2 separate regions of the Homo sapiens genome follow, and region 1 is linked to region 2. The links come from fine-mapping of genetic effects on gene expression. A gene starts in region 2. The other region holds a variant in brackets. All regions are shown on one strand. Distances are from middle to middle. Region 1 overlaps LOC105375799 (a long non-coding RNA gene). Region 2 holds the start of ZNF623 (zinc finger protein 623).

Region 1 (2,904 bases), 33 kb before region 2:
AAATTAGCTGGGCGTGGTGGCAGGCGCCTGTAGTCCCAGCTACTCGGGAAACTGAGACAGGAGAATCTCTTGAACACGGGAGGCAGAGGTTGCAGTAAGCAAAGATTGTACCACTGCATTCCAGCCTGGGAGGTTGCAGTCAGCTGAGATCACACCACTGCACTCCAGCCTTGGCAACAGAGTGAGACTCCATCTAAAAAAAAAAAAACACAAACAAACGAAAAAAAGAAAAACAATTAGCCAGGTATAGCATTCCTGTAGTCCTAGCTCTTCAGGAGTGATATGGTTTGGGTCTGTGTCCCCACCCAAATCCCATGTCAACTGTCATCCTCAATGCTGGAGGTGGGGTCTGGTGGGAGGTGATTGGATCATGTGGGCGGATTTCCCACTTGGTGCCCTTCTGGTGATAGTGAGTTCTCTTGAGATCTGGTCTGTTAAAAGTATGTGGCACCCCAGCCTCGGCATCGTCTGGGAAGTGAGGGGCACCTCTGCCCGGGTACCCCCACTGTCTGGGAAGTGAGGAGCGTCTCTGCCCGGGTCCCCCGACTGTCTAGGAAGTGAGGAGCGCCTTTGCCCGGCTGCTGTGCAACCCTCCAAATGTGAAGTGATAGCCTTGTGTGTAATCTTTCTACCTGCCCCAAGTTTGCATTTTCAACATTAAAGTTTACTTTTTAACTAAAAGTTTTAAATTGGAGAATTAAAAAAAAAAAAGTATGTGGCACCTCCCCACTCCTCTCCTCCTCCTGCTCTGGCCATGGAAAACGTGCCCACTTCCTGGGATTACAGGTGTGAGCCACCACACCTGGCAGGAAGTTTTGAAGTAGACTCGACATAATTGGATTTACATTTGTTAGATACAGTGAGTTCCTCTTCAAAGGTTCCACTTTACAGCAAACAACCTTCCAGCCACTCCCAATCTATAACCCAATCTGTAACCCACATCTGTTCCCAATCTGCAGCCCAATCTGTAAAACCCACATCTGTTCCCAATCTGCAGCCCAACCTGTAAAACCCACATCTGTTCCCAATCTGCAGCCCAACCTGTAAAACCCACATCTGTTCCCAATCTGCAGCCCAACCTGTAAAACCCACATCTGTTCCTTATTTGGCCACTGTAGCCGCCCCTGATCCAT[T/C]TGAAGTAGCCAATGGGGATCGGCTTAGATGGTGTGGTGCGACTCCAGCCAATGGGGACTGGACACAGTAGCAGGGCGTGACTGCTTTAGGGATAAACACCCCTGCCCTGCTTTGTTCGGTGTGCTCTCCCAGTGGCCAGAAGAGAGAGCGGCACTCTTCTGCAGAAGTAAATTTGCCTTGCTGAGAAGGCAAATTTGTGAGCACTCAAAAAAAAGCCAGTGGAAGTTTTTTTTTGTTTGTATTTTGAGATGGAGTTTTGTTCTTGTTGCCCAGGCTGGAGTGCAGTAACACAGTCTTGGCCCACTGCAACCTCTGCCTCCCAGGTTCAAGCGATTCTCCTGCCTCAGCCTCCTGAGTAGCTGGGATTACAGGTGTCTACCACCAGCCCTGGCTAATTTTTTGTGTGTGTTTTTAGTATTTGAGTGCTCATTTTCTTTTTTTTTTTTTCTTTCTTTTCTTTTTTTTTTTTTTCAGACAGAGTCTTGCTCTGTTGCCCAGGCTGGAGTGCAGTGGTGCAATCTCAGGTCACTGCAAGCTCCGCCTCCTGGGTTCACGCCATTCTCCTGCCTCAGCCTCCCGAGTAACTGGGACTACAGGTGCCCGCCATCTTGCCCGGCTAATTTTTTGTATTTTTTTTAGTAGAGACGGGGTCTCACCATATTTGCCAGGATGCTCTAGATCTCCTGACCTCGTGATCTGCCCACCTTGGTCTCCCAAAGTGCTGGGATTACAGGTGTGAGCCACCGCGCCCAGCCTTGAGTGCTCATTTTCTTTGCGACTCCAAGCTCTTATTTCCAACACATTTGAGAGGAAGCTGTCCTTGTGCAGTCTCAGCTGTGTGATTGTGTGGGCCAGCTGTGCAACATGTCAAGTTACTTTACCTTTCTGCATCAGGGCGCAATCAATCAGCAGACAGAAACTGCACAGTCATTTGGGCAAGGAACGTTTAATATAAAGGATTATTTACTATAATGGAATTATCTGTACAGGGCTAAAGATAATGCAAAAGAATACTCTGGGCTGACAGAGAGTTCCCAAGGAAGGAGAAAATGTGAAAGATGGCCTCCTCCCCAAGGCTGGGGCTCAAATCTTGGAAAAGGTGTGGTTGCAGAGATGCTGTTTGGTGCAGTATGGATGATGGAGAGGTTCTCTGGTTTTCCCGTAGCCAGAGCTGGTCCACAGTCAATGGGCAATCACTCCTGCAGGTGTAGAGGGGTTGAAGGTGGCAGGTAGGGAGCCTGGCCAGGACTGGCAAGCAGGAAACACCTCTCTGGGGCAGGCTGAGGCTGGATGCTGACCAGTGGAGCATCTGCAAGACTCACGGGGATCCACCCATGGCATTGCAAGTGAAGTTGGCTGGGGGTGAGCAACACTGAGTGTGCTGGCAGCCACATGGCAGGAACAAGAAGAAAACAGAAGAAAGTGCAGAACAGGAAGAGAAGCACTTTCCTCCTGCAGGGTCCCTCCAGTGCCCTCTACTTACAAAGCTTAACGTCATACCTGCTTTAAAGGAGAAACAATTTAGGGCCCAGCTCCATTTTCACCAAGCAGGCGATGAAGTATGTATTTGAAGCTGAAAGACAGTAAATGGAGAATTGGCAGTTTCAAGCCTCAGTTGGGCCCTTGGTTTTCTCAGTACTCACTCTGTGCCTCCCAACAACTAATCTTCTTTCTGATTCTCCAAGTAGCTCTTTCAACACTCCGTAAAAATCCTATCCACCATCTTTCTTCCCACTTGGAAGAAAACCTTGCCTTTTTTTTTTTTTTGAC
Region 2 (2,904 bases):
GCTAGGCAGGGAGCGCTTCTGTTCCTAGTGCTCCCCACGATGCCCCGGAAGTTCAGGGAGGTAAGAAGCGTAAGGTCAGAGAACTGGAGCCAGCTGTCAACTGCCCCCGCCCCACCCAGGCCATTTGGCTTCTGCTACCGGCATGCTGCTCAGGGCTCTGCCCAAGGACAACGACGAGCCCCCTGTGTCCTCTCCTGGGTCATCTTCCATGACCCTGAGGCAGCGAAGACAAGCTCGGCAGCTCCCTGAGCTGCTTCACACCAACTACCTATGAGTCTGAGGCCAGCATCCAGGCGCTGCCCAGACCCTGAGAGTCCCTGGACCATGACGTAGCCTGTGTGTGAAGGGAGCAAGACAGCCTTGACAGAAGCACAGAGAACGCCACTGGGATTCTTAAAGACGCGAAGGGAAAAGGGTACCTTCAAGAAAAAGCAGGACAGCGTAGCCACACCACCTCTCCCCATCTGGGAATTCTCCAGGTCCAAGTCTTGTACTTAATTCTAATTCTGCTCATCATGTTTCCCTCCCCACCCCTATCCCCAACAGCACAGAAGATGCTGGCGCTGCATCTCCTCCAGCACCGAGAGGCCTCGAGGCCCCAGGGAGCGGAGGCAGGGTTCAGGCACAGCCGCGGGAACGCCCACACCCAGTCCTGCCACACCGTAAAACATGTCTGCGGCATCAACCTCACGCAGGCCTGGCGGACCTGAAGACTGCGACACGGACACTCAAGCCCGCGGCTCTCCGGCCTGGGCTCAGGGCGGGGGGAAGGAGAGGGAACCAGGGGTACCCACACGGCGCTCCTCAGGGACAAGACCCCAGGCTCGGGCCCGAGGCGGGCTCGCTGGAGAGACGCCGCAGCCTCGCGGGGGCGGCCGTGGCTGCGTCCGGGAGACTGACTAGCCAAGGCCCCGCTCCTGGACGCCCTAGCGGGGCGGGCAGCGGCCTGCGGACCCCGCCCGGCCCTCTCGGCGGACTGTGCCCTGGCAAGGCGGCCGGGCTCCGGAGCCAGCCGGGGCTGCGGCTAAGGCGTTGCCCGCCCCCGTCCGGAACGCGCCACTCACCCGGCGCGGGCGGGGAGAGGACGGCGCGAGCCCGACCCTGCAGCCGCTGACTGGACCCCGCCGGCGCGGGCCCCACAGATCAGCCGACAAAGCCTGCACCGCCGCCAGCCCGCCGCGACCGGAAGTCGCGAGAGGCCCCGCCTGGGAAACTTCCTGCGCCGTTCTAGGAGCGCCAGGGATCGGCTCCCCTCTCAGTGGTGCGGACTTCCGGGCCCGGGGACTAAGACCCCCGGAGGGGCCAGGGGTGTCCGGCAGGAGCGGCGTTGCTACGCGGTTGGGAGGGTTGCGGGCCGGGAAGCGCGGGCTCGGAAACTCGGGTCTGGAGCTCGCGGCGAGGTCCGACCGCAGCCCAAGACCAGCTTCTCAGGAGGCGAGGATCCAGGGGAAGTAAATACCGTGAGGGCCAAACTTCACCTCTCTGCGCCCCAGAGAAGTGGGGAAGCGGCGCGCTGTGGAGTTTTTTGGTTTTCGGGTTTTGGTTTTTTTAAGACAGGGTCTCGCTCTGTCGCCCAGGCTGCAGTGCAGTGGCGCGATCTCGGCTCACTGCAGCCCCGACCTCCCGGGCTCAGGTGGTCCTCCCATCTCGGCCTCCCAAAGTGCTGGGACCAGAGGCGCGCGCCACCGCGCCGGCTCATTGATTCTTGGTAGACATTACTCATTGCTAGAATGAGTCACAGTCCGAAATAATCGAAATAATTACATTCCCCTGCCCCCCCCCCCCACCAAAAAAACATTATATTCGTATTTTGGGTTTTCTTTTTCCATTTTTCTGCTAGCACTGAGGAAACTTGTTTACCTAAATTGTTAGATAGGATTGGGAGGAATTTTGTTTTAGCAATGACGCTCAATTTATTTTTATTTTTATTTTTTGAGATGGACTCTCGCTCTGTCACCAGGCTGGAGTGCTGGAATGCAGTGGCGTGATCTCTGCTCACTGCAACCTATGGCTCCCTGATTCAAGCGATTCTCCTGCCTCGGCCTCTGGAGTAGCTGGGATTACAGGCATGCGCCACCACGCACAGCTAATTTTTGTATTTTTAGTAGAGACAGAGTTTCACCTTGTTGGCCAGGATGGTCTTGATCTCCTGACCTCGTGATCCACCCGCCTTGGCCTCCCAAAGTGCTGGGATTACAGGCGTGAACCGCTGTTCCCAGCCGACGCTCAATTTCTTTAGCTCTTTCTGACTTATATGCAAAAAACATAACAGCAGTTTATCACCAAGTGTACTTAATGACCTGTCAGTTGACCACTTGAATAGGTCCTTTTTAAATTTTGACAGAAGCAAACAAAGAATTAGAAGTAACCTAAAGTGCAAAACTACATGAAGTCTTTCCCAGCCAATAAATTCACCTACTTTCTTAAAATCAACTGCAGAGTTTTGAATTGTCCCTTTGATGAGGAGGACAGCCCAGGTACCAAGGCCAGGTACCAGGGTGAATAAAGGAAGAGAAGCAACGTGGGAGAAGGAGCTGTGGCCAAGGGGGACACGCTAGGCGCGTGCCCTCATCCAAGGACCTTCTACAGGAATTCCAGGGCAGAATCCATGTGGAACTCCTGCTGTGATTCTCCAGGGGCTCCCCGGCTCTTGGAAAGGCTTCTGTGTTCCAGGGGTGTGTGTGAAAGCCCTACATTGAGCGACCCCACCTCTCATCCAGGCCCGGAGACCTTGGCTGCTGCAACCCTATTGCCAGCTTACCATGGGACCCAGCTCTTAAGGCGAGAAGGGCTTGAGGCCTCTTCCCCACAGGGCTTACAGACCTTTCAGCCTCCCTGTCCGCAGGCCCAAAGAGCTTGAGAACACCGCCTGAGCAGGTTGTCACAGATCAAAATCTGCCTTGT

Evidence for each region. PIP is the estimated chance that this variant, and not a neighbour inherited with it, causes the effect.
Region 1: its variant is fine-mapped to the expression of ZNF623 in lung (TOPMed, PIP above 0.99).

The regions. Positions count from the first base shown.
Region 1 is chr8:143,667,648-143,670,551 of GRCh38, reverse strand. LOC105375799 (a long non-coding RNA gene) reads right to left here. Exons shown (of 4, transcript XR_928737.3): 3 at 2,635-2,707; 4 at 2,065-2,333. Among named protein-coding and RNA genes, the nearest start is that of ZNF707, 15 kb to the left of the region's middle. RefSeq lists enhancers at 505-1,005, 1,006-1,506. The variant T/C (reference allele first, on the strand shown) is at 1,134.
Region 2 is chr8:143,634,306-143,637,209 of GRCh38, reverse strand. It overlaps ZNF623 (zinc finger protein 623), which reads right to left and starts at 1,191. Exons shown (of 2, transcript NM_001261843.2): 1 at 1,065-1,191.